Linked DNA regions of Homo sapiens: regions 2, 3 and 4 are each linked to region 1. The links come from fine-mapping of genetic effects on gene expression. A gene starts in region 1. Each other region holds a variant in brackets. All regions are shown on one strand. Distances are between the middles of the regions.

Region 1 (8,106 bases):
ACACACACACACACACACACACATCTATCTGTCAAAGAATCTCCACAAATAAATTTCTAGGGACAATGAGTAGCACACAGGTATATTCTTCCACAGAGAATTTGTGTTTGCTTTTGCCAGGTGCTTAGGGGGTCCCAGCAGTCCAAGATTACATCAAACTAAACTCACTGCTTAAGATTATTGGATCACTAGGGTATGAATTTGGGGTACAGTCTATGCCAGGGCTGATTCATGGCCATAACTTTTCTGGAACTTTTAAAAAATAAGGCTCAGATAAGTTTCCTAAAAGTCTCCAGGAGAAGTCAGATTTACTTGGTTCACCATTCCCCTGAGAGAGCAGCTGTGTGGGTCTTGGGCGAGGCTCCTGGTGGAAGGTCTCTTAACAGATGCCTTCCCTTGGGCAGGCTCTGGGCTTTGACAGTCGTCCTTTTTGCTGCTAGAAACTGTCAAATAGAAGTTCAAGTTTGCCTGGTTCAGCAAAACAAAAGCAGCCTTCATGTTCCATTTACTTTTTGGTATTCTCTCTTGTCCTTAGATTTTGGCCTGGTAGGCCAGGCATGGTGGCTCATGCCTGTAATCCAGCACTTTGGGAGGCTGAGGCGGACGGATCACTGGAGGTCAGGAGTTTGAGACCAGCTTGGCCAACATGGTGAAACCCTGTCTCCACAAAAATTCAAAGATTAGTCAGGAGTGGTGGCACATGCCTGTAATCCCAGCCACTCAGGAGGCTGAGGCGGGAGAATTGCTTGAACCCAGAAGGCAGAAGTTGCAGTGAGCAGAGATCACACCACTCCAGCCTTGGCAGCAGAGTGAGGGAGACTCTGTCTCAAAAAAAAAAAAAAAAAAATTTTTGGCCTGGTAGTTACCTTACTATTTTTGTCAGGCGTTCAGTGCTTTTAGGAATCTGTTTTCTATATTTTATATAGAATTTCCAATTGTTGGTCTAAAAAACCCAGTCTGCCATAGTCTTAGAAAGGGAAGCGAACATCACCACTTTTCTCAGTACTTTAAATGAGAGGTTCTTTTAACCTAGGATTCATGCATGGAGTTCAAGGCATCTATATACCCCCCTGAAATTTCATGCAATGTTTTGTGTTTAACCAATTTTTTCTGGGAACAAAATCCATAGATGTTATCAGATTGTTAAAGGTGCCAGTGATAGAGACACCCTCAAATTTGATAACTATTGCTTTAGAGTTCTATCAGTACCTAGTAATTTTAATTAAAAAATGATTTTAGAATGATTTCAAACTCACAGAAAAGTTCCAAGTAGAGTGCAAGACAATCTCCACATTGTCGTCACCCAGATTCGCCAATGTTAACTCTGCCCTGACCCCACACACAATTAGTCTTTTTCTGAACCATTTGGGAACAAGCTTCAGACCTGAGTCCACGTTACCCCTAAATGCTATAGTGGGTATTTCCCCAAACAAGGATCTTCCAAATCAAGAAGTTAACATCGCTACAAGACCGTTCACAGAATCTATATAAGTTTCAATTTTTCAATTTCAACTGTCCCAAGAATATATTTTTTAAAAAATTGGACTGGGTGCAGTGGCTCATGCCTGTAATCCCAGCACTTTGGGAGGCCGAGGCGGGTGGATCACGAGGTTAGGAGTTCAAGACCAGCCTGGCCAAGATAGTGAAACCCCATCTCTACTAAAAATACAAAAATTAGCCAAGCATGGTGGTGGGCACCTGTAATCCCAGCTACTCAGGAGGCTGAGGCAGAGAATTGCTAGAACCCAGGAGGCAGAGGTTGCAATGAGCTGAGATCACGCCACTGCACTCCAGCCTGGGCAACACAGCAAGACTCTGTCTCAAAAAAAAAAAAAAGTGTGTAATATTTACTTCACAGGATTGCTATGGATGTTCATTGGACATAATAAGGAGTTTGGTTAGTTGTCATTGTTAGTTTGTTACAGTTACACTGTGTCCCCCTACACTTCCCCTCTTACTCATTGCTTATTGGGGTATGGAAAGCCAGCATTGCTATAGCATTCTCGCAGCACAGTACACACACACACACACACACACACACACACACACACGAGGCTGGAATCATGGGTATACTATGTCTTTAATAAAGGATCTTTCTTGGCCAGGCACAGTGGCTCACACCTGCAATCCCAGCACTTTGGGCGGCCATGGTGGGCGGATTGCTTGAGCCCAGGAGTTCAAGACCAGCCTGGGCAACATGGTGAAACCCCATCTATACCAAAAACAAACAAACAAAAAAACAAACCACAAAAATTAGCTGGGCGTCATATGCCTGTAGTCCCAGCTACTTGATACTCGGGAAGCTGAGGTGGGAGGATCACTTAAGCCAGGGTGGTGGACTGTTGCAATGAGCCAAGATCATGCCACTGCACTCCAGCCTCGGTAACAATGTTTCAAAAAAAAAAAAAGTATTTTTCTTGATTGGACAATGAGAATTCTAATTGTAATGGATATCTATTGTTTGGTCCTCCCCCTTCTTGTGGGAAACGGTCTTTCTCTACTTCCACAAGGTAGTGTACATTGTTCTTACCTGAAATGGCAGTTACAAGAACATGACAATGTCCATGTTCTTAAAGATCCTAGATCTTTGGCACAATCATTTGATTCACGGACAGGCAACTAGCTGGACCAATGAACTAGCCTTCCCTGAGAATTTTTAACTTGGGACTAGAGATCATCATCCTTACCTCGCCTGTCTGATGATGAGGCAGAAGATGAAATGTTGGGAGCTGTCAGTGGCCTTGTTTCCAGACATATGGAGGAAGCTGGTCTAACAGCATGAAGCCAATGTGCAGAGAGAGTTGCAGAGCTGAGCCATAGGGGCAGAGGCATTCTCGTTCTAGTAGTCCCAGCAGTCCCTCCCCTTCTTGGAGTCTGTCCATATCAACAGTACATTCCTCCCTTCTGCCTAACAGTTGAGTTCCTGTCAATGGCAACCAAGAGAGGTGTGACTGATTCATGTATTCAAAGGGCTGTTGTGAGAACTTGTGCCTGACTCACAGTGGGGACTCAACAAATGTTGGTTTATTACTCTTATATTTAACGCCTAAAGTCTGAATGCGAAAAGGTTAGGGCAATTCCAGAAGGAATTACTATGCAGAAGGGAAAACTGGTTGACAGGTTAACTTTCCTTTGAACATCACAAGGGAAGGCACCTAAATACAAAAGGAAGGCTTCCTCCACGCCCCCCATACACACACATTCCCTTCATCCTAACCTGGCTCTGCAGCTCCGAGGGTCACATACCTGCCCTTGGCACTACTAGTACTTCCTCCAGCAAGTCTCAGTCTTTCTTTCAGAATCCTTCGCCCTTATGCCATGTAACATCTGATCGGCCCGGTCTTTGCCCCTAGTATCAGCAGGCCAATACGTGCTCTGCTACAGGTCTTACAGGGAGGGTGAGCTCTTGGAGTTGGATCAGAAGGAGAGGGGCTGGGGAAAGATCGTCTTCAAATTGTTTCTTTGGCGGTAGTATATATAAACATATTTAGGCAGGGCATAGTGGCACATGTCTGTAACCCCAGCACTTTGGGAGGCCGAAGCGTGAGGATCGCTTAAAGACAGGAGTTGAAAATCATACTGGTCAATATAGTGAGATTGCAGTGAGCCATTATCGCGCCACTGCATTCCTGCCTGGGTGACAGTGCGAGACCCCTTCTCAAAAAAAAAAAAAAAAAAAGAAAGAAAAAAATCATAAGCAAACAACAACAAAAAAACAAATATAAAGAATGGCGGTCTGCTTAATTCTCCGTGCCAGCCCTTGAAATCAGTGGGTATTATTATGTAGAGTTTGAGTTCTTTCCTCCCTTGAGTAACATGAGTGACATCAGTAACATTAGTCAAGCGCTGCTCTTTTTGAAAGACTGTATTTCATTATTTTTATTCTAAACCTTACTCTGTTTGATGAAGATTGGGGGAAGAGCCCTCCCAATTCCACCGCTCACACATAACAGCGGTTGCTAGCATTCTTTATTTGTGCTAGGTCATCTGCATATTGTTTAAACATTTTTCGAGGCTGGAAAGACTGCTCCCACTCAGGCAATTCTGACGTGGCGGCCCTTCTAATTTATATTCTCTAAATAATTCTTCATTTAGAGAAAACAGTCAGGGATTACAGTGAGGGAGGGTGACGTGCTGACGGGGACAGAGCTTGGCTTTTGATCATTCTCCCCTTAGCTCTGCCCAGGCAAGCGTCCCTAACTCAGGGTATCGGAACCGATCTCCCTTAGAGGATTATGTTTCAACCACCAGCCTCAGCGGTTTACTCAAATGTCCTTCCAGCCAAATGCAGAAGTCTCCCTGGGAGTAATTTTGGTGAAGTCAGCTTTTGCCTTTTTCATCACAGGCAGGCTTTAGTAGTTCCTCAAAACGTGCACCACAACTGCCCGGCTGCCAAACAGAAATGCTGATGCCTGGGCCCACTCTAGCCATTTGGCCTCGGCATCACGGTGCGGGAGCGTGGGGCGCAGACTCGCATTGTCACAGGAACCTCCCGGCCTTCCGAAGAGCCCCGCGCCGGGGCCTTTGTCTCGCACGTCGGCTGGGGCGGGAGCTAGGTTCTCGCAGCCTCCTCCCACCGCTCTGCGCCTTCTTTGTCCCTCCAGAAGCCGCCATCAAAGCTCAGCTCCTGATTAGGTTTCGGCCCCGCTGGCCGGCGCAGTCTCGGCGACTACCCCAGGCGGCCTGGCGCACGCGAGGATTCGCCGCGCCCCAGATGCAGGTGCCTCCCCTCCTTAGCCGCCGACCGACAGTGCACGCCGCGGCCGCCGGAAGTGACAGCGCCTGTCGTTGGGGAGCTCCCGCCCCTTCCGCCTCGGCGCCCCGCCCAGGCCTCGCCCCTAGGTGTTCCCGCCCCTCCCCCTCCCGTGTCGCTCGCTTTCTGTCAGCCTCTCTCCCTCTCCCTCTCCCCTCTCCTTCCTCTCGCTTCCTCTCTCGCACCTGAGCGTACGCACCTGCCCGGGCCCGGCTCCCTCCTCCTCTCCCCTCCCTCTTTCCCCGCCCGGCCGCGGGAGCCTCGTGGCTGCGTCACCGCCGCCCCCCCAGACAAGATGGACACCGCGGAGGAAGGTAAGTCGGCGACGCGCGGCGCCCGAGCCCTTGCGTCGGCGCCCGGGTTCGTACCCCGGCCAGGTCCGCGGCGCTCGAGGTGGGCTGCTGGATCGCGGCGGGGCGGACGCCTGGGCCGTTTGTCCACCCGCTGGGCCTCTGGGCCGGGGAGCGGAAGGTGACCCTCTGCGCGCCCCCCGCCGTTTCCCGCCCGCGCCGCCGAGGGGGGCGGGGACCCTGCCGGGCAGGGGCCGGGGCCGGGGTCGGGGCCTCGGGGCTACTGCAGGCCGGCGTGGCCTCCCTTGTCCCCGCCGTCGCGCGCTGGCCCAGAAAAGGGGGCCTCTGTCGCTGCCGTCCGGGGGCGTTTTCCGCACCCTTCCCCCACTGGGTTTTGTCTTTCTTTACGTCCTTCTGCCTATTGCTCGCCAGGCCCTACCCCCTCGCGACAGAACTTCTTTGTTGACTTTGAAACTTCGCGAAAAATACCCCGCCAGATGACGGCCGAGTGGAGTGAGCTGACCCCTGTTGAAAAGCCTGGTCCTCGGCTTGCCTGCCGCTCGAGAATCTGTTTACTAAACGGGGAGGCTCTTTTGTTGCGATCCATTTGGTTTTAAATCCTTGACACCTATAAGCAGGGTTCTGTTTGTTTTGTTTTGCGATTGCTTGTGTTTTGGATACGGTTACATTGAACAAACTGACCCTTGTAAAATGAATACTTAAGATATAAACGTCCACACCTTATGTCTCTTCAAACGCATTTTCTTACCCACTGAAGGTAGTAGATTATTTTTAACCAGCTGTGTTTTTAAATGAGTGGTGAGTTTATAGAGGAAATTACTAAATTTTGCTTTTTTTGATGTTCCGGTTATCGTGCAAATGCTTTTCTACTTTAGGTATATTTATGGGGGTATGAGCGTCTTTCAACCTTATGGGTTGCGATTTTGGCGATTTTAAACGAAAATGAATTATCAAACGCCGTCATGGAGTGCAATAATGAGTGAAAAAAGTTTGATATTATCTATGTAATGAGTTGATAACGACTTATTTTTTTTTAAAGAAGTCTTGCCTTTAATAAATACCTCAACTATAACATGTGGCACTTGATGTACATTCGCGTTCCATCTTCGTAAAAAGCCTGTGGAATAGGTAGGTATTATCTTTTATAGATGTGGAAATGTAGGCTTCGTTATTTTAATAGCTTGTCGAAGCTTTACACAGGTAGTAAGAGGCAGATTTGAACCTAGGCATTCTGATTGCAAGTAATTTCCCTTTCATTATGCCACAGTGTGTTTATTATATACACTGAGTGTAGCTAATCGCCACTGGAGACGCCTTTGGAAAAAATAGTAAAGCGAAACTGCTGAAGGTTGCGAACTATTTCTTTTTGACAGGTGGTCCTTGCGTGTAAATTTCCATCTACATAGGTTTCACATCCTTTTAGATTCAGGTTTTAATGAGTAAATCTAGTAAGGCATGTATTTATCACAGGATAGGTACGGACGTATTACATTCAATTCTCATTCTTTTGGCCTGGGCATTGCTACTTGCATACTTTTATGGTGTGACAGTAATCTGTGGTAATTCAGGAATTGCGCTCGAAGCACGTATGGAATCATGAAATATTTTCACTGTACTTCTAGTGCTTAAATATATTTTTTCTCTTGTAAAATTATAATCAGGATAAGGTATACATAACATTTATTTATTGAACACTGTTGCCTGTTAAAATAACATGTGCTGAAGACTCAACGTGTAGTATGTGCTTTACTAAACACTTTATATACATTTCATTTAATTCTCTCACATCGTTAGGTAGTCGGCATTTTCATTTTACAGATGAGGAAACTGATGGTTAGTATGATTAAGTAACTTGTCCAGGATAATACAGGTAGTAAATGGCAGAGGCAAGATTCAGACTCATGTCTGTCAGAGTCGCACTTAAATTAGATTATTTATTTATGAGTGTATACTACAAGTCCAATGTTGAAATTTATTTTTGTCACTCCCTCTATAGGATGAATCATTTATATAATTTGGTGGAAACTTTATTTTGCTTTATTTTGTTTTATGAAATTATTAGTCATGAAATGCAAGTGAATTTTAGTGCCGTATTCTCATGCCTGCTTTTGCAAAATTCCAGTTTGGAAGTCTTCTGACATTTTTACAATTAAATTTAAGTTGAAATAACACTTAAAGGAAAAGGGAGGGTTATAGAGGATTAAAAATGATATAGCAAAGATGCCAAAAAACTAATAAAAAATGTTCTATTTGTGAAATCAGTTATTATAGGTTATTTCTTTAAAAAATGCGACTTAGGTTTTTTAAATCTGCTTAGAAATTTTTTGGTAGGAGATATTCAAAGTATGGCCAAACATAAAACTAAATTAAAAAAAAATCAGTATCACCTACTTTTGAAAACACTTATACTGTTGTGGTTCTGTTTTTTATTTATTTTATTTTATTTTATTTTATTTTATTTTATTTTATTTTATTTTATTTTATTTTATTTTATTTTCCGAGATGGAGTCTTGCCCTGTTGCCCAGGCTGAAGTGCAGTGGCATGATCTCTGCTCACTGCAACCTCCACCTCCCAGGTTCAAGCGATTCTCCTGTCTCAGCCTCCTGAGTAGCTGGGATTACAGGAGCGCGCCACCTCCCTCTGCTAATTTTTGTGTTTTTAGTAGAGATGGGGTTTCGCCATGTTGGCCAGACTGGTCTCAAACTCCTGACCTCAGGTGATCTGTCCGCCTCAACCTCCCAAAATGCTGGGATTACGAGCGTGAGCTACCGTTCCTGGCCGGTTCTCTGTCCTTTAAAAATATATTTTAATATTCTGAGCAAAGAGATTAAGAATGTTACAAACACATCAACCGTGCGTATAGTAAGTCTTCCCTTCCTTTTAAAAATAGCACATTGCTTGCCTCTGATGGTACCATATATGATAGTCTGATGCTCAGAATGTTATGCATTTGTAGTAATACTTAGTTCCGACATGGCTGTTTCATACTAATTGTTTGCTAGATTTTAAAGATCTCTAAAGTTTCTTCAGTATTAAATTAA
Region 2 (8,106 bases), 590 kb after region 1:
ACAAAGAAATCATTACATGGAGTTATGAGAGTTTAGGTTAAATTAAAAAAAATTAAATATTTTTAGCAGAGTACATTTTGCTTGCCTAGGGAGATTGCTTCTCCAGAGCCACTTAGAAATGTCTTATACAGGTACTATCATGGTGGCTGGGACAGTCAAACAAGAAGGTCAGAGAAAAAAGGAGGTGCCCTCCTGGGTACTTCTAGTCTTAGGGGATTTTATTCTTAGAGTGTGATGTTAATCTTACAACTGGGGATTTGTGCATCAGCCACCAGGCGCCGTGTTATTTCCCCTTCAGTCTCTGGTAACCAATGATTCTACTATGACCGACTGACATTTTCGCATTCTCACTGAGACCCTGGTGTGTGGATGTGTGTAATGGTGTTACATTAGGACTGTTCTAGTACTTTTATGTTTTGGATGTTGGGGCATGGATTCAGAATAGTTTATCCTATTCTGAGCCATGCTGTCGTGGAATTTGCTGAGCTGCGATGGGTGTCTTAAATATATGAGAGTGAATCTCTAGTTTGTTAGCATTTGGAGTTTCCTGAAGTGTAACCAGTTATGTTGCCTAAACAAAAGGGGATGTTTGGGCTTGACTTTGTTAGTAGAAACACTGCCTAACTGCAAAAGTACCTGCAGGGCATGACGGCGTGTTCTCCTCTGAAGGTCTTTAAGAATAGCATGGATTCCGCCTGGGCGCGGCAGCTCACGTCAGTAATCCCAGCACTCTGGGAGGCCGAGGCGGGTGGATCACATGAGGTCAGGAGTTTGAGACTAGCCTGGCCAACATGGTGAAACCCCATCTCTACTAAAAATACAAACATTATCCAGGTGTGGTGTTGGGCACCTGTAATCCCAGCTAACCGGGGGGCTGAGGCAGGAGAATCGCTTGAACCCAGGAGGCAGAGGTTGCAGTGAGCCGAGATCGCACCGCTGTGCTCCAGCCTGGCAGCCTGGGCGAGAGAGTGAGACTCCGTCTCAAAAACACAACAAACCAAAAAAAGAATAACAGAGTCAATTCCTTTGCTCACAGTGGCTAAAACAGTTCCTACCTGAAGAAAACAGAAGTGGATCTCATGACATCTTGAGTATTTTGCAGTCCCATTATCCATTTCAAAAACGAGCCTTTTATTCAGCCTAACACTGCATCTAATAGAATAAGATTTTTGAGAGTGAGCTTTTGAAATTATAATGTTGGGATGTTGCTAGATGCTCTTTGAGTGATGAGATTTTAATTTTGAAAACCAGCAGTGAAACACTCACCAACATGTTCCTTCTAGATGAAGCTGCAACTGCAAGACAGTTGTTACTCTTTCGATAACTCGAAGGCAGTTTTAATTATTAACTAATTAGGGTGGAAACAGAGGCTTGTCATTTTCATTATTCTCATGGCACACATTGTTAATAATTTTCTGGCTTTTGGCATAGTGATATAGGGCACTTCAGTTATGGCTTAAAAAAGGGGAGGAGGGCACATCTTGGAGGTGGATTAAATAAAGATTTAGCTTCTTTGCCTCAGGATTGATATGTGCCATTTTAAAGCAAGGCTCATGAGATCTCTGGATCGAGAGGTCAGTACTAAATACAGGAATGAAAATGCTGCAGGCTCTGGGGAAGGGAGGTGGTTAGTTCTGCCCTGCCTGGGGAGAAGGGGTTCATAGCAAGCAATTTCACATGGGCTTTGAAGAAGTCAGAATCGGGTAAGGATGGGGTGTGGGAGAGAGAATATATGACAAAGAGAACCAGAGGGAAAAGGACATGGATGTGAGGCTGTCGAGCATTTATTCAGTCAACAAATATTTATTGCTGTCTGCTATATGCCACATACATTCTAAGCCCTGGGCACAGCAGAAAATTAAATGGGCATGTTTCTACTTTCCTGGAGGTCCTAGTCAATTGACAGTGCTCCAAGGATTGTAAGCAGCATGGTAAAGTTGGCGTCGGACAGGGAGCAGGTGTCACAGTGTCCAGTGTCCAGTGGTGAAAGACCATGCGATGCTGGGTCAAGGAACTCAGGCTCTGCTCTCTGGTCTCAAGGCAGCCCCTTTGCTAAGTGGCTCTATGGCTCCAGATTTTGTGGTAGGAGGACCTCAGCCACCCCTCCAAATATACCCAGTTATTTCTGGGAGCAAGTCCCTTGACGTGCCTCTCGTGCATCGCACAGGTTTTCAACAACAGTCCTCTTGCAGTCTTCACCCTGTCTTTCCTTTCCTGCCCTGGCTGAGGCTCCCAGCTTCCCGCGGTATGGCCCAGGTTTCAAGTCCCGAGAAAAACCTTATCACACGGGCACCACCTCATAGGAACAGGAGAGATCCTTGAGTAAGTGAGGAGATTTTACGTCCTAATTGGAGTAGTGATTACATGAGTGAATACTTTTGTTGGAAGGTACTATATTGTATCCTTAAAATGGGAACATTTTATAAATTATTTTATATCACAATAAAGTTAATTTTAAAAGAAAATAAAAATTGTGATGTCCATCTTTTTAGTAACCTCAAATCTTTTTACTTATTAAGGAGATCTATAATTTATTTATTGTTTACTATGTATTGAATGCTATGTGTTTTACATTAATTATTCCATATACCTAGGATGAAAATACTACTATCATACCCAATTTGTGGCTGGGGAAACTGAGGCTCCCAGAGGCAAAGTAATGAAGGAGCTAAACTGGTATCCCTGCAGTAAGGGTTGGAGACAGGATTGGAGCACAGCCTTTCTCAATCCAAGTCCTTGCCCTTATCCATTCTGTGAAGCAGCCTCTTTTGTCACAAAGGTTATAATTTTACTTCCTCAGTAAAATAAAAAAGAAGTCACCTGTTTAGCATCTGAGCTTTGGGGTGCTGGTGTGGGGGCTCAGAGCTTTACGCAGGGTGCCACGGGAGTGGCCAGCACATCTCCAGTCCTGTTTCTCGATTGCCAGCCCTTCCTCTCAAGTAACAATGCTGGAGTCAGCAGGCAGGAGGCTGTGAACACAGCACTTAATGATTCAGTCCTGTTGCTCCCTGAGCCAGCTGGAGAAGCCTGGCTCACACAGCCCGAGAGATCTCTCAGGCATGGAGCTCAGGTAACCTTCTCCACCTACCTCTTTTTTTTTTTTTTTTTTAGATGGAGTCTCTTTCTGTCACCCAGGCTGGAGTGCAGTGGCGCAATCTCGGCTCACTGCAACCTCCACCTCCCGGGTTCATGCCATTCTCCTGCCTCGGCCTCCTGAGTAGCTGGGACTACAGACACCCGCCACCACGCCTGACTAAGCTTTTGTATTTTTAGTAGAGACAGGGTTTCACCGTGTTAGCCAGGATGGTCTCTATCTCCTGACCTCGTGATCCGCCCGCCTCGGCCTCCCAAAGTGCTGGGATTACAGGCCTGATCCACCGCGCCCGGCCCTTCTCTTTCCATTTAGCGGCATCATTCTTCATCTGTGGCCAATGCTATCCTAGACCATCACTCAAGGTGAAGCCAGGGTTGGACTGCTGTGTTTAGAGAAGCCTCAGGTTAGTCTTTGTAGGTTTTGTTCACTTTATAGATCACCCAGGGAGGGCATAAGCCAGTGGGCCATTCTCACCCCTGAGGACGGAACTAGACCCTTGGGGAAATCCACACCTCCCCTGCCCCAACTCCTGTCTCTGAGTCCATCTGTCCCCAGGATGGACTAGAGGAGAACAGTGATGTCCCGCAGCCTAAAGACTGAAGCCTCTCCCTTGCCCCACGCCCCATGAGGAATCAAGGGTCACTCTGAAGAGAAACTGAATTGAAACTAGTTCCAGTTATTGAACACCTGAGCTAATGGACTGAGGTCATCCATCTCTATGTACATAGTAGTCTGGAGTGTGAGTTTTGGGGATTTGGGTGGACCATGGAGGGCCAGGCCTTCTACAGGGCATTGTCCTTCTACGTTCTGGGAGAGAAAGTGGGAGAGGAGGGTGTTGGCCCCATGGGCAGGTCACACCATAGACTCTTACATGGCTATTTGCAATAGCTCTGA[G/A]CCCCACTCAGGGCAGAGAGGGGATATCTAGAGGTGGCTCTGAGAGAAGATAAAAACTTCTTTAGCAAATTTACTTCTTGAGAGAGGGAAAAGGAGGGGCCCAGTGACCTCCAGGTTGTACAAGGATATTCTCCTGAACCCATCAGCTTTCCTAGCACCTAACCAAATGGAGACACATAGACATACCCCATGAATGGGGATCTAGGAGGATTTCAGATAATATTCAAATGTCTTTTCAATGGTCTTTCTGCGTCCAAACTAATTTCAATTCAAAACACACACTGCTTCATGCATGGTGAGATAGAACTGCTTCTCTCAGGATGTCACCTCACTCAAACTGTTACTGTCTCTCAAGGCAACATTAACATAGGAAAACCCACAGTACTGACCTCCACACCCTGTCTCCCAACCTTACAATTTGTATCACAAACAGTGATGGAAGAAGAAAGAGAATAAAGAATAAATTAAGGGGATAGATGAATGTAAAAGTGAAGATTAGAAAGATGAAGTAAAGAACAGAGAGGTCTTTCTGGGGATAGAGGGACCCCGAAGAAGAAGAGCTGCTGGTTTCAGAAGAACAAAATTGTGGTCACCTCATCTCAAAAAGGGTCACTTATTTCCTTTATGGGTCCCATATTTCCTTTATGGGTCCCTTCCTGCCACCCCTTCTGTCTGAAACTCATTTTCGTGTTATCCTTTTGTCCTTCCTTCTATAAACTAAAAATAAAGACCCAAGCAACAATGCTCCACCCCCCACCCCACCCACTGACTGGGCCCACTTATGGCCAAGAGGACCCCAGAAAATCCTTAAAAGTGAGTTCCTTGCTTTTACACTGTTGGTGGGAGTGTAAATTAGTTCAACCATTGTGGAACACAGTGTGGTGATTCCTCAAGGATCTAGGACCAGAAATACTATTTGACCCAGCCATCCCATTACTGGGTATATACCCAAAGGATTACAAATCGTTCTACTATAAAGACACGTGCACATGTATGTTTATCACAGCACTATTTACAATAGCAAAGACTTGGAACCAACCCAAATGCCCATCAATGATAGACTGGATAAAGAAAATGTGGCACATATACACCGTGGAATACTATGCAGCAATAAAAAAGAATGAATTCATGTCCTTTGCAGGGCATGGATGAAGCTGGAAACCATCATTCTCAGCAGACTAACACAGGAATAGAAAACCAAACACTGCATGTTCTCACTCATAAGTGGGAGTTGAACAATGAGAACATATGGACACAGGGAGGGAACTTCACACATCGGGGCCTGTCAGGGGGGTAGGGGGCAAGGCAACGTAGAGCATTAGGACATATACCCAATGCATGCGGGCTTAAAACCTAGATGATGGGTTGATGGGTACAGCAAACCACAATGGCACATGTATACCTATGTAACAAACCTGCACGTTCTGCATATGTATCCCAGAATTTAAAGTAAAATTAAAAAAAATCACACAAAACAAAAAAACTGAGTTCCTGGCCATGATGGGATGGGAGATCAGAGGCCTTGTTACATCCCTTCCCTTTGGTGGTTCAGACACAACAATTGGCCGGCATTACTGTTAAAATAGAGATCGTAAGACAGGCAGAACAGACGCTTTGTGGCAACAGGGTGCCAAATTATAAACAGGGCCCAAGGCCATTCCAGGCAAGGGTTAAGTCACACATCCGTAAACTTAAAGAATCAACTACATTTTAACTGCCAGGAGGTTACTCTTTTTCTCTAGCAGCTAAACAAGCACTGGCCCTGAAATAAGCAATATGGAAGCAATTGCAGCTCAGCCACCTCCAAACACTGACTAAGCCCTGCTGCTCCACCAGCCATAACTATAGCTTTAATTGGACAAAACACTGATTTCAGTAACTTTCTCCGGTAAGACGACCACCAACTGTGGACTGGATCTGGGCAGTTTACAGTGGGTGCACACTTGCCTGCCTTACTGTCCTGAAAAGACCTTTTGACGTATAGGGCCTAATTGTAATACATTTAAATGTTAAGTCTCCACCCCAAACTGAACATGGGTCATATGTTACACGCATGTTTATTCAATATACATGTGTCAGGACCACCCTCATGAATATTTGTAGTTCTTCCTGTAACCTGTTGAATATGTATGTTTAGCCAGCCTGTTCAGCATAAAGCTCCCACCCCAACCCTTTCTCCTTCAAAGTGTCCGTCTCTGGGCTTCAACCAAGGCCTGTGTTGCCCAGCCCTCGGGGTGGCCACCTTACAGGTGGCAGCTCTTTACAAGAAATAGTCTCCTCTCCTTTTCCAAACTTTATGAGTGTTGTTTTTTTTTTTTGAGACAGAGTCTCACTCTGTCGCCCAGGCTGGAGTGCAGTGGCGCGATCTCCGCTCACTGCAAGCTCCGCCTCCCGGGTTCACGCCATTCTCCTGCCTCAGCCTCCCCCGTAGCTGGGACTACAGGCGCCCGCCACCACACCCAGCTGATTTTTTTTGTACTTTTAGTGGAGACGGGGTTTCACTGTGTTAGCCAGGATGGTCTCGATCTCCTGACCTCGTGATCCACCCGCCTCGGCCTCCCAAAGTGCTGGCATTACAGGCGTGAGCACCGCGCCCGGCCCTGAGTTTTTAAATTGTTGTTAACATTTCCTTCTTTCCTTCCTTTACTTCCCTCTCCTCTTTTTCTTTTTCCCTCCCTCACTTCCTCATTCCTTCCTTTTTTTCCTTTTTTCTTTCTTTTTTGAGAAGCGCCAAACTCTCCTGTAATGGTAGAGAAAAAGAGGATCACTTAGGAGTTTCGATGGTTTAATTTCTGGGCTAGTTCAGATATGTCAATGTTTTTAGTATCAACAGTCCTAAGGACATTTTGCTTTTTTCACCAGAAGCTGTTTTTTAATTAAGTTAACGTTGTCTACTGTCTCACTGTTGATTTTCATTTTTTTTTTTTAAATCATGTAAGATCTTCCTGTAAGCAACTTCAGAATATCCTCTTTTCACATTTAAGGCTGCAGTAATTAGACCCAGATTTGCTGAGCCTGTGGGAATCCTACAACCAAAGTGATCTTAATGGCATTTTAATGTTTGAACTCTTCTGTTCTTATGTGCGAGGTTACCAAGCAGATAAAAGAAGTGGCTTTGACATCCTGGTGCTTATTAGAGTTTAGAAAATGCCCTTTAAGGGTGAAAGGTTTGTGAGTTTTTCTTTACTAAATGAGAAACAGTGAAACCAGCAAACCTGTATCAGTACTCACAATGTATTTTGCGTTTTTGGTCTCTTTATACTTCAGATACTTTGAGATATTCTTGGGTAAATACTTATGTAAGAGGATTTTATGAATGACAGCACCTTGATTTTATGAATGACAATACCTTGTAAATCAGGAAACAGTAAAAAAAAAAAAAAGTGTTCAATGGTTTGTAATAGGAGAGATTTTGTATCTTCAAAGGAAAGGTATGTATTTTGCAAATTAAAGACAAGGTGGTATTTGGGGTTTGAGAAGACTTTGCATGAGATTACTTTATAAAGCCTTATAAAAACACCCAGTTCACAGATGCCAATTTTATTGGTATTACCTCCATGTGATTTATGATAGATGATCAAATGAAGAAAAAGCTAAAACAGATTAACCAAAGCATGAAATCATTATTGTCTCAGGCTGTTACCTCACTTAAATTTTCTCCAGTTTTAGGGGTCCAAGAACTGTCACCTGGACTATCGCTGGAGGATATATCCTATTCCCCAAATCCTACAAACTTCACTTTCAATTCAATAATAAAATTCTTTGCTGGTTGTTTCCTTTGACCCATCCAATTCTTTTCTAAGTGCGAGATAATTTCTAAGCAGAGACCCACTTTGTTATTCTTGTAGAACCAGTCCATTAGCTCAGTAATATTTCCCTCCTGATAATTACACAGCACCTGTTTATGTCACTGCATTCATGGAGCACTCATTGTGTGCAAAGCATTATGCCAGGACTGTAGGACTTCAAGATACCCAGGACAGTCCTTGAGTTGCTGTTCTCTTTTGGAAAGTCTGCAAAATGAATCAATAAGTGATTTCAATACAATGGTGTGATAGCGATGTAACAGATTCCTGGGGAAGCTACAAGGGCAGACTCACAGTTGAGTTGGGACCTTA
Region 3 (8,106 bases), 42 kb before region 1:
TTGTAGGAACTTGCATGGCAAGTGATTTTCAATCTTGCAGCAGGGAAGGCAGGGCCAGTACTTATCCTTAGATGATTCTACAAACATCAAACTTCTCCAAATATTTATTTTTCAGCAGCCATGCTTGTATTTTCCAAGTGTCTATGGTCGAGATAGCATGAATTAGGAAGCTACCTGGATGAGCCCACAATGGCCCTCTTAGACATGCCAACGACGCCCCTGCAGAATCTGCTTTTTCTCTGGCTGTTCCTAGGCCTGGATAGGGTTCCCAGGCCTGGACAGGATTCCCCGGATACCGGCGAGGCTCATTACTAACCACTTTATTTTAAATGGGCTTTGAAAACAACAGGTGGCATCTTCCATCAGCAAGTGGACATAAATCTCAGTGCCCAGTGTTTCCAAGGCCTGCCCGACCCACATGGCTGTGGGGTGTAAACTGTCCAGTCGTTCCTGGCACACCTACCCAGCATTTAGGATGTCCCACTCTTAGATCCATAGACCCAGCACCTCTCTTCTTAATACCCACCCTAAAGAAAAGCTGTCGAATGTGGATGCTGATTTAGTTGCAAATATGCTCAGTTTTTTAATAGTTTTATATTAGTAAAAACGCTACAACCAGAATGTCTCACTGCAGGAAGAGAGTTACAAGGAGTATTTAACGGCATGGTGGAAAGGCTCCTCCGTGCTAAATGGCCAAAACGAACGCAAGTTTGCATACGGTGTGATTTCCACTATGTCTTTAAAATGCATGGCGAAACACCTACAGGAAAATACCAAAATGTAAACAGCGGCTGCTTCGGACGCATGGGATCGTGGAGGCTGCTGTTCTGCAAGGACAACGTATCACTTTTATGAAAGTCAGCTTCTGAAAACGGACTATGGGAAGTTCCTTACCCGTGCACGCGGCAAAGACCTTCTTTGCCATAGTCAGAACACACGCGGGAGTTCAGAGGAGCGGGGCCCGGGCTTGTGTGGGCTTGTGTGCCCCGGGGACGCGCACGTACCTTGTCCCGCGGCCTGAGACTGCGCTGCACCGCGCGGAGGCCGAACCCAGAGGAGGCGGCGTGGCGCCGGGCGGGGACGCGAGAGGGACGTGGACGCGGCGACCGAGGACGCGGGGATCCTGCGGGACCAGTGGCTCCAGTCGTAGCCTCCTGGGAGAGCCAAGCCCGGAGGGGGCGGAGAGGTGGAGGAGGGAGGCCTGGGGGAAGAGAAATCTGCAAAGTCGGGGAAGGGAAGGAAGGCCAGGAGGGAGGGAGGCGCAGTGGGGAGGAGACGAGAGAAGGGAGGGAGGGAAGTGTGAGGGGAGGGGAAGAAGTGGGGTGGTCGGAGGGTGGGGTAGGGAGGAAGAGGGAGGGAGAGATGGGAGAGGCTCCAAGATAAAGAAAGGTGCAGGGAGAGGGGGTGGGAGGGAGGGAACCGCAGAGAGGAAGGGAGAAGAGAATCAGGCAGCCTTGAGGGAGGAGGCAGGGAGGCCAGGAGAAGGAAGACAGCCAGCCTTCTGTGAGATTTACGTGCGTGCCTGGCTTCCAAGACAAGTAACTTCTGTTGTAAATACAAATTAAGCTATTTTTTGTTTATTTTATTTTATTTTATTTTATTTTATTTTATTTTATTTTAGAGATAGGGTCTTATTCTGTCACCCAGGCTGGAGTGCAGTGACACAATCATAGATCACTGGAGCCTCGAACTCCTGGCTTCAAGTGATCCTCCCCTTCAGCCTCCCAAAGTGCTGGGATTACAGGTGTGAGCCACCATGCCCAGCCACAATTTTTTTTTTTTTTTTTTTTTTTTTTGAGATGGAGTCTAACCCTGTTGCCGAGGCTGGAGTGCAGTGGCACGATCTCAACCTCAACCTCACTGCAACCTCCACCTCCCGGATTCAAGTGATTCTCCTGCCTCAGCTTCCCCAGTAGCTGGGATTATAGGCACGCGCCACCACGCCCAGCTAATTTTTGTGTTTTCAATAGAGACGGAGTTTTACCGTGTTGGCCAGGCTGGTCTCGAACTCCTGACCTCAAGTGTTCCACCTGCTTCGGCCTCCCAAACTGCCGAGATTACAGGCGTGAGCCGCCGCACCCGGCCCCAGCCCCAAATTAAGCCTTTTTTTAAAAAAGAAATTAATACACGTTTCATACTTGCCTCCTTCGTATTTTCTCTGGTCATCTGCCCAAGGTTATGACAACAGCTTCAACTTGGCTGCAGAAGCACACCCCTGTGGCTCACTCAAACTGGAAACATACAGGAAAAGGGAATTCTAGGAATATAGCTCAGCCTGGACAAATGGGCACATTAAAAAGCCATTGCACCGTGGTGGCCGCACTTCCTGCCATCCCCACTGCAAAGGTGTTGTTATGGACTGAATGTTTGTGTCCCCTCCAAAATTTGTACGTTGAAATCCTAACCACCCCGCCCATGGTGGTATTTGGAGGCGGGGCCTTTGGGAGATGCTTAGGTCATGAGGGTGGAGCCCCCAAGAATGGGATTTGTGCCGTTACAAAAAGAGGCAAGGGAGCTTGCTTCCTCATCTGTATGCCAGGAAGAGGATACTCACCAAGAACCCAATCCTGCTGGCCCATCCCAGACTTCCAACTTCCAGAACTATAAGAAATAAATGTTGTTTAAGCTACCCAAGTCTATCTATGATGTTTTTGTTGTTGTTGTTGCTGTTGCTGTTTTTGAGACAGAGTCTCGCTGTGTCGCCCAGGCTGGAGTGCAGTGGTCCCATCTCGGCTCTCTGCAACCTCCGCCTCTCGGGTTCAAGCAATTCTCCTGCCTCAGCCTCCTGAGTAGCTGAGACTACAGACATGTACCACCATGCCCAGCTACTTTTTGTATTTTTAGTGGAGATGGGGTTTCACCATGTTGGTAAGGATGGTCTCAAACACCTGACTTCAGGTGATTCACTGGCCTCGGCCTCCCAAAGTGCTGGGATTACAGGCATGAGCCACCTCGCCCAGCCTGGTGTTTTTGTTATAGCAGCCCAAACGGACTAAAACAGTGTTTTCCTTCTAGAGATACACTAATTTTCTTTCAGACAGGATCTTTCAAAACCCAGTCTGAAACATCTGCAGTTGAATTATTTTATGGGCTTGGAATTTCTCTAAAATAGTGGTTAGGGATTTTTTAAACATCAGAATAATTTAAAAAGTTACCAAAGTGTTATTACCCAGAACAAATTCAGGGTCAGCGCCAAAGAAAAAAATTTATTTACTTTTTTTGAGACAGGGTCTCACTCTGTCACCCAGACTGGAGAGCAGTGGAATGATCACAGCTCACTGCAGCCTCTACTTCCCTGGGCTCAGGTGATCCTCCCACCTCAGCCTCCTAAGTAGCTGGGACTACAGGCATGTCACCCAATTAAGTTTTTGTTTGTTTGTTTGTTTTTGTTTTTGTAGAGACGGGCTTTCGCCCTGTTGCCCAGGCTGAAGAAAAATTCTTGTTTCCATCCTACAATGCGCAAATTGCTTGTGACACCTAAAAGGACAATTTTTCAACTTCACCAATTTTAGTGCCAAACTCCATGGAAAATTAATCACACAAGTGATTATTTAACCTAGGTTCTTAAAAAAATTAAGTTTCCTTCTTACAGAAACTCTCAGCAGAAATGAACTCTAAGATTTCATGGAGTTCCCTATAAATTAAAGAGCTATGACTCAGCGTTTGCTGCTCGTTACCCCTCCAAAGTTATCTTTATTTTTCATTATAAAATAGGTAACTAAATTCCAGGGACAGAATGAGTCCAAGCTGAATTAACAAACAGGGCAAGGTCAAAGTTAAACAAAATTGCTGACTCTGCTCAAACTCCTGTGATTTACACTGACCTTGAAGGCAAGGCCAGGAAAAGTATTCCTTGGAATTGCTCCTCTAAAGACGCTTGGAACAAAATCAGAAAAAGTGCTGCTGTGTTTCAGAACATCTCAAAATAATACCTGAGGGCAAACATATTCTATGTCATCTGTTACCATTTCCTGGCCGTGCTGCTGACTCAGCCTCCAGCACTCCTTGGTGGAGCTGCAGGGAGCCCGCTGGGAAAGCGCTGAATCCTGTGCACAGGAAAGGCACTGCTGGTGAAGACAGGTGAGAGGCTGGGTAGGTGATTTCTAGAAGGTTCTTGAGCACCAGTCGGCCATCTTGTCATCCCCAGATAGAAAGCTTAAATTTGCTTTTTTTTTCACTTTTTATTAATGAAAATGTACAAACATATAGAAAGGTAGAAAGAAGAATACAATTAATTCCCATATACCCCAGGCCTAAATATAATTATCTTTAGTATTTTGCTAAACTTGCTTCATCGATTTTTTTTTCAAAAGTGTAGAAATTATAGACAACTTGACATTTTACCCCTTAATAATTTTGTAGTAGTCAGCCTCCAAGATGACTCATAACGTGCCCTGCCTCTGAGAAATCACAACCCTATGTAGTCTCCTACACTTACCATGGTTGGTCTGTGTGACCAATAGTCTACCAACATAGTGATGGTGTATTAGTCTGTTTTCATGCTGCCAGTAAAGACATACCCGAGACTGGGCAATTTACAAAAGAAAGAGGTTTAATGGGCTTACAGTTCCACGTGGCTGGGGAGGCCTCACAATCATGGTGGAAGACGAGGAGGAGCAAGTGACATCTTATGTGGATGGTGGCAGGAAAAGAGAGCTTGTGCAGGGAAACTCCTTCCTATAATACGATCAGATCTTGTGAGACTTACTCACTAACATGAGAACAGCATGGGAAAGACCTGCCCCCAGGCCAGGTGCCATGGCTCACGCCTGTAATCCCAGCACTTTGGGAAGCCAATGTGGCCAGATCACCTGAGGTCAGGAGTTTGAGACCAACCTGACCAACATGGTGAAACCCCGTTTCTACTAAAAATACAAAAAATTAGCTAGGCATGGTGGTGGGTGCCTGTAATCCCAGCTACTCAGGAGGCTGAGGCAGAAGAATCTCTTGAACCCAAGAGGGGGAAGTTGCAGTGAGCTGAGATTGCACCACTGCACTCCAGCCTGGGTAACAAGAGCAAAACTCCATCTAAAAAAAAAAAAAGACCT[A/C]CTCCCAGGATTCATTACCTCCCACTGGGTCCCTCCCACAACACACAGGAATTCAAGATGAGATTTGGGTGCGGACACAGCCAAACCATATCAGATGGTACGTCTCTTCCAACATTAGATTAGACTCTGGGACTTCCACCTCTCTCTTCTCTCTCTCTCTTTCTCTTTCTGTGTGTGTGTTTCTGTGTGTCTCTGTGTGTGTGTGTCTAGCTTTCTCTCTCAGATCACATGCTGTAGGGGAAGTCAGCTCCCAGCCATGTCTTGAGTAGCCTCTGGAGCAAAGAAATCGTGACCCACAGCCATGTTCCTGGGCCATCCTGGACAAGAATCCTTCAGCGTCAGCCAAGTGTCAGATGCCATAACCCCATGGTAACCTCCTGAGAGACCCTGAGCCAGAAACTCCAACTAAGCCACTCCCAGACTCCTGAACCTCAAACTGTGCAAGATAATAATGTTTATTGTTGTGAGCTGCTAAGTTTTGGGCTAAATTGTGACACAGCGATTGTTAGTTCACACAGATGTTGATACCTTTGATAACTGGAAGTGGGGTGCTGCTATGACAACACTTCATGTGTGATAGTGACTTTGGAACTGTGGCTTTGGATTATCGAGAGTGTTAGTGAAAGCCTTGATTTACCCGAAAAAACCTGTTGATAAAAGATTCACGTCTTTTGTTTTTGTTTTGTTTTTTAGAGACAGGGCCTCACGCTGTTGCTCAGGCTGCGGTGGCATGGTCATAGCTCTTTGCAGCTTCAAACTCCTGAGCTCAAGGGATCCTCCTGAGTCAGCCTCCCAAAGTGCTGGATTACAGGCACATGCCACCACACTGGGCCTAAGACTCGGATCTTTAAAGATTGCAAGTGAGCACTTGTAGGAAAGTGAGGTCAATGAACTAGAACCTGGAGGAAGGGGGTCCTTGTTATGCAGTGGCAGACAGTTTGGCAATGCTGTTGACTGCAGTTATGTAGACAGAAGCAAATTAGCTGGGTAATCTGGCCAAGGAGATCTTCAATTGGTGTTTAAAGTACTACCTAGTTTTTTCTAATTCCTTCTAGTAAGATGCTAGAAGATAGGTCAACAAAAGGAAAGACAGTTAAATATAAATGAATTAGAACTGGATAGTTCTGGAAATTCTCAGTCTGCCTAGATGGCAAATGTATTAGGCCGTTCTTGCACTGCTATAGAGAAATACCCGGGCCAGGTGTGGTAGCTCACACCTGTAATCTCAGCACTTTGAGAGGATCACAAACAAAACAGGAGGATCACTTGAGCCCAGGAGTTTAAGATCAGCCTGGGCAAGGTAGTGAGACTCCGTCTCTACAAAAAAGTGAAAAAATTAGCCGGGTGTGGTGGTGCATGCCTGTAGTCCCAGCTACTTGGAAGACTGAGGTGGGAGGATTGCTTGAGCAAAGGAGTTCAAGGCCACAGTGAGCCAAGATCACACCACTGCACTGCAGCAATAGTCAGGCTCTGTCGCTCAAGATGGAGTGCAGTGGCATAATCTTGGCTCACTGCAGCCTCAACCTCCCAGGCTCAAGTAATCCTCCCATTTTAGCCTCCCGAGGAGCTGGGAATACAGGTGCGACCACCACACTCAGCTATTTTTAAAATTTCCTTGTAGAGAGAGGGTTTCACCATGTTGCCCAGGCTGGTCTCGAACTCCTGGGCTCAAGCTATCTGCCTGCCTTGACCTATCGAAGTGTTGGGACCACAGGACCTGGCCGTCAGACACTTACACAAGCAGATCTCGTGGGAACTCAGAACAAGATCTCACTTATCAGCAAGAGGATGACTCAAGCCATCCATGAGCTTCAGTTTTGAATCACCCCCATGATCCAAACTCTTCCCTCCTACCAGGCCCCACCTCAAACACTGAGGATTATATTTCAACATGAGATTTGGGTGGGGACAAATATCCAAACTATATTAGCAAATTATGAAACAATTAAGAAATGGCTTCTAAGCAAAGATCAAATGCAGGTCCTGCCAGAAAAACTGTGGTCCAAGATGAACCCTTAGGTGTGACTGTAAGATTCCAAAGAGATATAAGGTGGCATCTCAGAGTACCACTGAGTCAGACAAAGGGCCTGCTCTATAGAGTAAAGGTGCACCCCACAGCCTCTCTCAATCAAAGGAGAGTGCTTCTAGGAAGCTTAGGGGCTTTGTCCCTCAGCTGTCTGCAGAAGCCAAAGGTAGAGAACAGATTTGTGGGTGTTGCATTTGTCTATGGAGTGAACCCCAATAAAATTCACAGAAAATCCATAGTTTAAGAGAATTGTATATACGGAAATGTTACCAGCTTGGACTGAAAGGAACAGAAATAATACAACCTAAAAAGAAGACCTTATTTGTTACTTATTTTGGGGGGAGGGGACAGGGTCTTGCTCTGTCAATCAGGCTGGAGTGCAGTGGCACGATCTTGGCTCACTGCAGCCTGGACCTCCTGGGCTAAAACAATCCTCCCACCTCAGCCTCCCCAGTAGCTGGGACTACTGGCACATGTCATCATACCTAATTAGCCATGTCATAATGGCTAATTTTGTTTTTATTTTTTGTAGCAATGAGGGTTTCACTATGTTGCCCAGGCTGGTCTCGAACTCCTGGGCTGAAGTTATCCTTCCACCCCAGCCTCCCAAAGTGCTGGGATTACAGGAATGAGCTACAATGACTGGCCAAAAAGAAGACCCTAAAAATTCTACTGTCAAGCAGTGGACTGAGGCTGCTCCTCAGCCACACACGACACCTTTTTTTTCTCCCTTTGTGAACAGGGGCGTCTGGAGTAGTTATTCTGTGTTCTCTTACATGTTCAATTGGGGAGGGAGAGGCAGAGGTAGACAGACAACCTATCAAGAAGAATTATAATGTAGAAACTGTATTTAAGGAAATAAAGTCCCACCTGGACTTGATTTAGATGATCTGGAGATGGAACTGATGCTACAATAGGATAAGCCTTTGGGGAACTTTGGAAGGAGTTGATGGTATTTTGCATGTGGGAAGGATGTGAAGCTTTGGAGACCAGAAGGTGGACTGTGGCTGTCTGCTGGCTGGCCTGTACTGA
Region 4 (8,106 bases), 84 kb after region 1:
AGTTCACTGCAACCTCTACCTCCCAGGTTTCAGCAGTTCTTCTGCCTCAGCCTCTCTAGTAGCTGGGACCACACACACCCAGCTAATTTTGTATTTTTAGTAGAGATGGGGTTTCACCATGTTGGCCAGGCTGGTCTGAAACTCCTGACCTCAGGTGATCCACTCGCCTCGGCCTCCCTACGTGCTGGGATTACAGGCGTGAGCCACCACGCCCAGCCCCTTCCTAGCTTTCTGATGGTCATGTTTTTAGTCTGTCTCCTTAGATCTGCCCACTAAGTTGTTTTATAAAATCTGAACCTTAACAGATAAATCCACTGCATAAGTTTACTGTATCCCTCCTGGCCTCCACAGGTCTGAGTTTCTGAGACCCCCTAAACCACTGACTGAAGCATGTCCTCCATTGCACAGCATTGGAGGCCTTCCAGCCTGTGCTGCTTCTGCAGCTTCCTACAAACCCATACCTAGGTAGATGTGTCAGCCTTTACAGGTGTTCACTCGGGACTCCCTTTGACTTGCCCAACCATTGACGAGTTTTAAGTAGGAGTTAGATTTAAAAAGACATATGAATGTTTTACTCTGTACATTCATAGAAGAGAGTAACCACCTTGTTTTTGCAACCTAGGTACCTTGTGGGTCAACGACTCGTGAACTACGAACGGAAATCTGGCAAACAAGGCTCATCTCCACCACCTCCACAGTCATCCCAAGAATAAAGTAGTTGTCTCAACAACTTGACCTTCCCCTTTACATGTCCTTTTTTGTGGACTTCTCTCTTTGGAGATTTTTCCCAGTGATCTCTCAGCGTTGTTTTTAAGTTAAATGTATTTGACTTGTGTTCTCAGCATTCAGAGAGCAGCGGTGTAAGATTCTGCTGTTCTCCCTGGATCTTCTGACATTACTGCTGTCTGAGATTTGTATATGTGTAAATACAAGTTCCTTGATACCCTAAAACCTTGGATTAAACAGAATGTGCATTGTACATCTTTAAACAAAATGTATATTAATTTATTAAATCTAGTTGTCACTTTATTTTGGACCTGCTGTGATCTCGACAGGAAACGTGCCACAGAGCAGTAGTGCGCAGGCAAGACTTTTCAGTGACGCCTTGTGGAACGCAGTTCATGATGTCCTAGCAGCTCTCACTAAGGGAACTGTACATTCTTTCTTTCTTGGCTATTCAGACCTTACCAAGAACGTTAAAGGAAACAAGTAGAAATCAGCAGTGGAGTGTCTGTGGTAAGAAAACATGAACTTTATGCTTCACTGTTAGTTGTTTGTGGAAGTTATTTTGTATAACACCAAAGCTGTTGTACATTTCCTACTGCCTGATTTTTTTCATGTGTCTGTGTTTGTAATATTGTATAGTATCTTGTGCTAGGTGAGGAAATTATTTTTAATTTTGATAATTTAATATTCCTAGTGTGATCAGCATTGGGAGTTGGGTTTCAGTGGGGCATGTCTATACTTAGAGAAAAAAAGTCCAAATGAAGATTTTCATGAGTCAGCCCCCCCGCCCGCCCCCACCCCACACCCACATCCTCTCTTTTCCACACACAACTATCTGTTTATTTTTTGTAGCAGTGGCCGAAAGTCCTGCAAGGTCATAAATCTTTCAGAGTGACATCACCAACTGTACTGCATCTTACTGGATTTAGGACTTCTGAGATGCTTGTGAAGTATAGATGTGGTTGTGGTCTTAGATTGACAGCATTAGAGAAGACTGGTTAGAACATCTGGTCTCGCTGGTTAGTGCCTCGTTGGCTGAGGACTAGGTGTGCATTTCTCCTAGCTTTTCATCAGGAAATCCCAAAGTTTCCAAAGCTTTTTGTTTACAGAATAAAACTTCAAATAAAACCAATTCATTATTTGTCCAGAAGGAAGCTTGGCTGAGCTGGCCTTTTAACATAGGAATGTATTTCGTTGGAAACATTCTGAAAAATCTCAGAGAACTGAACCCTTACAAACTTTGTTTTCCCTCATAACCAAAGCTTCAGGTTAGAAGTTTAGAAAAATAGAATGGTTGGGTACATGATCTAAATGTTTAATGCTAAAGGTATATCGTAAGGGTAGTGTTTGTTTTTGAACGATAATTTAGAAGTTCTCATAGAAAGCGTATAACATAGGTCTTCAGAAACTATAAAAGAATTTTCATATAGTATTAAAATCCATAGACTAAAATCTGAGAATTTTTTAACATATGCAAGTCAGCCAAACATAAGCTACCAAAATAAAGAGCAATGTGTTCTGGCTGTTTTATACTTCAACAATTTTTTCCCTAAGTGGTAAGCAATTACTTTAAAACATATTTTTAAAAACATCGGTATCGGGAGCTGCGGTGGCTCCGGCCGGTTGTCCTGGCACACAAGGAGGCGAGGCTATGCGTTCGAGGCCAACCTAGGCAAAATTGGAAAAAAAAAAAAAAATCAGTATCAGAAATAATGCTTGACATAGGATTCAGTGTTATACTCTTTGGCACTTTAGAGCAGCCTTTTCTCTCATTTGAAATAAGGTCTTTGTTAGCCCTACCTTTACTCAGAAATTTAGTCCTACTATAAAAAATTAGGATTTTAAAATATAATGCTGCCTGTCATAGTGTATTTCTAAATTGCTCTCTTTGGGAGAAAAACATTATTATTGAATTGAGCATATAACTATATAACTATATAACTATATATATATATATATATATATATATATATATATATATATATATATATATATATATATTTTTTTTTTTTTTTTTTTTTTTTTTTTTTTGCCCCCGAGACAGAGTCTTACTCTGTTGCCCAGGCTGGAGTGCAGTGGCACGATCCTGGTTCACTGCACCCTCTGCCTCCCAGGTTCAAGCGATTCTCCTGCCTCAGCCTCCCAAGTAGCTGGTACTACAGGTGCGTGCCACCACACCTGGCTTATTTTAGTTATTTTAGTAGAGATAGGGTTTCACCATGTTGGCCAGGCTGGTCTCGGAACTCCTGACTGCAGGTGATCCGTCCTCCTTGGGCTCCCAAAGTGCTGGGATTATAGGTGTGAGCCCCCACGCCTGGCCAACTTGATTATATTAATTTTGGGTTTTTTGTTTTGTTTTGTTTTGTTTTTTAATTTTTCAAAGAATTTGTGGATCTTGGTATAAAGTCATTGGAACATATCTGTTTTAACAGCAAGAGATCCTAGGCAGATACTTCAAAAGGTTAAAAATTCTTAATCCTACAGAATTTTAAATGAATCTTATCAATGTTTTGTAAACAAACAATATGAATGGCCAAAAAATTGCCCTCCATTTTACTGGCAGGTAATTTATATTGTCTTACTTAAGAATTCTCCCCTAGTTTTTCAATTGTACTTTATCGTGTTGTTTTCAATGAGATAAGTATTTTCATAGGGAAAGCATTTTCCAGCATAATATTTGCTTGGGTAGCATCCGGGTTTTAGTATTTAACCAAGAGCCTTTTAAATATTGAAAACCCATAGTTCAGAAAATGTTAGTATTGCTGCCCTTCTTCACATAAATTTTTTTTTAAATTATACTATTATTTTGCTTAATTTTATATTGGGTTAAAACAACCTTCAAGAAGGTTAACTAGGAAAGAAGACCTTTTTGTTTTATTTTTACTATTTATATATAGAAGACAAATCAGCATTTGGTGATAGTTTTACATGACCAGTTATCAAACGGTCATAGTATGAAGTGTGCAGTTGTTCATTATTAGTAAATTATGTTTGATTTTTAAACTATTTAGTACTAATAGTTGAGATGAAAACTGAAGAAAAATGCCAATGTGACGTTTGTGTATAGCTAGCCTTAAAAAACTTCCCATGTTTTTAGGTGACTTTTTTCCCCCTCTTAGTACTCTGGAGAAACAATGAAGATGGGCCATCTCAATTCCAGATGTAAACAAAAAGTAATTTTTATTTCAACATTTAATGTAACTGCTATTATTGTGGATTCTTGTCTTGTGTATTTTCTTTCCCTTATTCAAGTAATATAGAATAACTTTCCTTAAAATGATTTGATCCAAGATACGTCATTTCTGTATTGGCAAAATGCCACTATTAAAGTGTAATTCTTGAATTTAGGTTGAATTGATGACTTTTTAAAACAAAACAAACACTGGACAGTTCTACATTGTATTGCGTTTGCGAATGTGCGTGAACACACGCACACGTGCAGGAGAATGTAGTGCCATAAGAACACTGGCGCTTTTTAAAACTTTCCAAGCTAGCTACTTATTTTCATTTTCAGGGTTGAGTACTCTAAGCTCTCTACTTACTGTGAGAAGTTTTCTACATTGTAAAATTAAAAGATTATATTTAAAATACTTCTTTAGGATGTTATTCAGCCATCAAAAAAAAACCCAACTAAAATGTCTTACCAGTAAAGTATTATTAAAAGCCTCATTTGTGGAGATTCGCTGACTTCCTTGGTTAAGCTGTCTTGTATTTACTTAATTTGTCCCCTCAACCAGGTGTTTTCTTTTCAGCCTGTTACTGTCCTGTGCCATTTTTAAAAATAGCCATCATGAGTAAGGGCTTCTTTAAAATAATCCCTGACAATATCTTTGGCATTAATACGACATAAAGACAAGACAGTATATGTATGTTTTCATTCCTGTTTTGTACGAGTGCCTCATTTTGTAGTCATGAAAGTAACATAGTACCTTAAATAAAAATGTAATGACTAATCTAAGGTCTAGGAATAACTATTGTAGAAGCTAAGTAGAACACTTAGTTTGGGGTGTCAATTTTCTATCAA[C/T]GCAAACACCTTAGGGTACCCAGACCAATTTTATGTATATATATTCTGAAATGCTCCCTTTTTAATGTGGTCATTTGTTGCCTTCTAAGTTGAGAGGACAAAACTGAATAAAGTGAATGTTAATTGTAGTCTAGTTTTTTTGTTTGTTTTTGTGTTATTGCAAGATTGCTTTAAGATTGCAGAAATATGCATTATTAGCCAGCATAGATAATCCAGATGTTATAATAGGAAGGAAAAACAACTCCAGTTAAATGTGACTGTGGCGACTCCCTTTTATGTATACATTTAAATGCATAGTTGCAGAGGACACATCCCTCCCCTTCTGTCTCCCTAACTTGAACTGTAGACCGTCCTCACTGGGAAGAGTAAGGCCCCACATTTTGTGCAATAGCAAGCTACTGCCCACTTCTGCATGTCTGCTACGAGATCAGAAAGTCAGTTTCACTAAGGTTGTCTTTTAGCTGAATACTTAGAGTAAAACCAATCAAATCCATTGTACATACCTGACCATATGTCCCAGATAAAAAGGAAAGACTTGCGTGATGTTTTTTTCCTTCTGAGTGCCCTGAGGAGATCCTTTTGCTTCAGACTATTTCTAATTTTTCTTTGTTTATAGGTTCAGAATTTTTTCCATGATTGTTTTCCCCCAAACAAGTGCATTTTTAATTACTTTAAATGCAGGGGTGATAGAGGAAATGCTATTCGAACCATAGACATCTTTAATCTGTGAAGCTGAAATTTTTCAGCAAAGGAAATTGCATGGTCAAGTTCAGAAACTGGCCATTAATTTCCCCCTTCCGCTCCACAGTTCATAGCTACTCTTGTTGCAAACATGTAGTGATAAGGAGAACTAACGTATCAAGGGGCTGAGAGGGTAACGTTCCCCTCCTCCTCCATGTTTTTATTTTGGTGTCTGTTTTGTTTCTAGCACTGTATTTAGTACTGTAGTTGAATGAGGTATGATGTCTCCCTTCAAGGAACTCAGAATGGAACAGAAGCATGAGCAAAAGATTGTATTACAGAGGTATGAATAAAATGCCATGGGGAACACAGAGAAAGGTTCACCCGGGAGAGATGGCCTAGCCACTTCCTTAGTGACTGTTTGGTATATGTAGGTCCCCCTGCCATTACTCTTTCAGCCTTCTGCAATCTAGTTCTACTTAGTCACACACTTCTCTAAGACCACTCATACGTAAACACTACGTAGAGGCCCCTTTTTGCCTCATTTTACATTGTTTAGTTATCATTTTGAAACTTTTCTTCACATATGTAACAGTGCCGGAGTTTTTCTGCTTCTCTGTGTTTGTTCAGTAACTCTTCTTTAGGATACACCTAAAGATGAGAAGCTTCATACCCAGTACTCCTCTTCATTCACTCATATGTTTTTGGGATCAGTCCCTTCTGCTGGCTGTGCATTGGTCTAATGGAACAGAATAGAGTCCAGAAATAACCCAACATGTATGTGGACAACTGGTTTTTGACAGAGGTGCAAAGGTCTTGAAAAAATGATGCTGGAATAATTGGGCATCAGATGCAAAATTAAAAACAAATTGATCCATATCTTAACACTGGCAAAGATTAAAGTCCAAATGGATTATAGTTCCCCAAAACTGTATAATTTCTAGAAGACAACAAGGAAAACGTGTTCAGCCTTGGGTTAGGAAAAGATTTCTTAAATCCAACACCAAAAGCACAATCCATGAAGGAAAAATCGATAAATTGTACTTTATCAAAATTGAGAACTTCTCTTTGAAAGGTACCATAAGGAGAACAAAAAGACAAGCTGTAGAGTGGCAGAAAAATATTTGCAAAACATTTCTGATAAATGAGTTGCATCTAGATTACATAAAGAAGTCTCAAAACTGAACAAGTAAACCCATTGTTTACTTAATCGCTGTTTCTCCTGAGCTTGCTGCCTCTGCCCCTGCTCTCTCTCCTTTTCCATTTGTTTTCAACATTGAATCCAGAATGTTCTTCTTGAGATCCAAGTCAGATCACACCAACCCTCAGAACTCTCCAATAGACGACCATGGCACTCAAAAGTCCACAATAGCCTTCAATGCTGGGCAAAACATGAAGCACCCCTTTTCTCCCTTCTCTGACCCCATCACCTCTGTGTTCACCCTGCTCCTGCCGTCCTCCCTGCCTCCAAAACAGGTCAGGCCTTCGTGCCTTTGCACTTACTATTTGCAATACCCAAATGTTCTTCAGGCTCTTTAGCCTCTTCATTTCTTTCCTGAAGTGTCATTCTCACTGAGGCTTATCTAAAGCTGCAGCTACTGGGGCATTCCTGTCTCATCTCCCTGCTGTATTTTGTACTCCCGGCTCTCTTTTGTACTTTTAAACATACTATATGGTTTACCTTTGTTGTTTATATTTGCATGTTGTTTCCCACTTGAATGTAAGCTCCAAAGATTTTATTTTTTTAAACTGAATTATTACTGTATTCCCAGAACAATTCCCTGGCAAATATTTGGTACTCAATAGTAATGCTAAGTTAGTAAATAAATGATGAATTTAGAATCAAAATAATGTGTCTATGGCCAAAATAAAACCTGAAATCCCTGTCCTATTTCCCAGAGGTAACTGCTGTTAATAGTTTAGTTGTGTGCTTCCAGACATACCTTCACAGAATCATTTATCACAATAAAGGTGTCATACTATGCAGATTGTTTGACAAGATGCTTTTTTTCACTTTACACGGGCATCTTTTCATACCATTGTGTGGCCAGGCCATGATTTGTTTTCCAAAAGACATTTACCCAATTTATATGGTGAAGATTTTTGTCCATATTACTTTTTATAGTATTTCTGTAGGGTAAGTTCCCAGAAGTAATATTGCACGATCATCGAAAAATTTTAGTGTTACATTACTGCCCCATAAAGGTACTAATTAACATCCCTCTCAACAACATAGAAGATTCCTTTTTTTTTTTTTCTTTTTTTGGGTGGAGGGGGGCGGGGACAGAGTCTTACTCTGTCGCCCAGGCTGGAGTGCAGTGGTGCCATTTCTGCTCACGGCAACCTCCACCTCCCGGGCTCAAGCTATTCTCCTGCCTCAGCCTCCCAAGTAGCTGGGAATACAGGCACGCGCCACTACGCCCAGCCAATTTTTGTAGAGAAGGGGGTTTCACCATGTTAGCCAGGCTAGTCTCGAACTCCTGACCTTGTGATCAGTGCTGGGGTTACAGGCGTGACCCACCGCGCCCGGACGGATTTCTTGTTTTCATACTGTCATCAACTTTAAATACAAGTATTTTCAGTTTTTGCCAATGCTGTTAATTTAGAAATGTGTATGTATATATTGTCTGGTGGGTGTTTGGATGGAAACGATCAAAATCGGGCAACTTCCCCAG

Alleles and levels. Alleles are on the strand shown, and positions count from the first base shown. SD is a standard deviation of normalised expression in the study named. Not every link is listed here.
In carriers of allele G in region 2, the expression in monocytes after triphosphate RNA of the gene that starts at base 4,845 in region 1 tends to be higher than with A alone (large effect, 1.0 SD a copy in Kim-Hellmuth 2017).
With allele C in place of T in region 4, the expression in monocytes of the gene that starts at base 4,845 in region 1 is higher (large effect, 1.1 SD a copy in CEDAR).

The links. PIP is the estimated chance that this variant, and not a neighbour inherited with it, causes the effect.
Region 2: its variant is fine-mapped to the expression of MARCHF6 in monocytes after triphosphate RNA (Kim-Hellmuth 2017, PIP 0.95).
Region 3: its variant is fine-mapped to the expression of MARCHF6 in whole blood (TOPMed, PIP 0.98).
Region 4: its variant is fine-mapped to the expression of MARCHF6 in monocytes (CEDAR, PIP 0.95).

Annotation. Positions count from the first base shown.
Region 1 is chr5:10,348,851-10,356,956 of GRCh38, forward strand. It overlaps MARCHF6 (membrane associated ring-CH-type finger 6), which reads left to right and starts at 4,845. Exons shown (of 26, transcript NM_005885.4): 1 at 4,845-5,067. The coding sequence starts at 5,049. It overlaps MARCHF6-DT (MARCHF6 divergent transcript), which reads right to left and starts at 5,207. Exons shown (of 3, transcript NR_183261.1): 1 at 5,122-5,207; 2 at 2,688-2,923. RefSeq lists enhancers at 4,404-4,663, 5,510-6,081 and silencers at 4,804-4,943, 4,984-5,453.
Region 2 is chr5:10,936,002-10,944,107 of GRCh38, forward strand. No RefSeq gene overlaps it. Among named protein-coding and RNA genes, the nearest start is that of CTD-2154B17.1, 150 kb to the left of the region's middle. The variant G/A (reference allele first, on the strand shown) is at 3,989.
Region 3 is chr5:10,306,621-10,314,726 of GRCh38, forward strand. CMBL (carboxymethylenebutenolidase homolog) reads right to left here and starts at 1,282. Exons shown (of 6, transcript NM_138809.4): 1 at 1,005-1,282. RefSeq lists enhancers at 560-1,060, 6,677-6,971 and a cis regulatory region at 3,885-4,117. The variant A/C (reference allele first, on the strand shown) is at 5,049.
Region 4 is chr5:10,432,972-10,441,077 of GRCh38, forward strand. MARCHF6 (membrane associated ring-CH-type finger 6) reads left to right here. Exons shown (of 26, transcript NM_005885.4): 26 at 623-7,417. The coding sequence ends at 713. It overlaps ROPN1L-AS1 (ROPN1L antisense RNA 1), which reads right to left. Exons shown (of 2, transcript NR_102746.1): 2 at 7,764-8,106. Among named protein-coding and RNA genes, the nearest start is that of ROPN1L-AS1, 4.8 kb to the right of the region's middle. The variant C/T (reference allele first, on the strand shown) is at 4,751.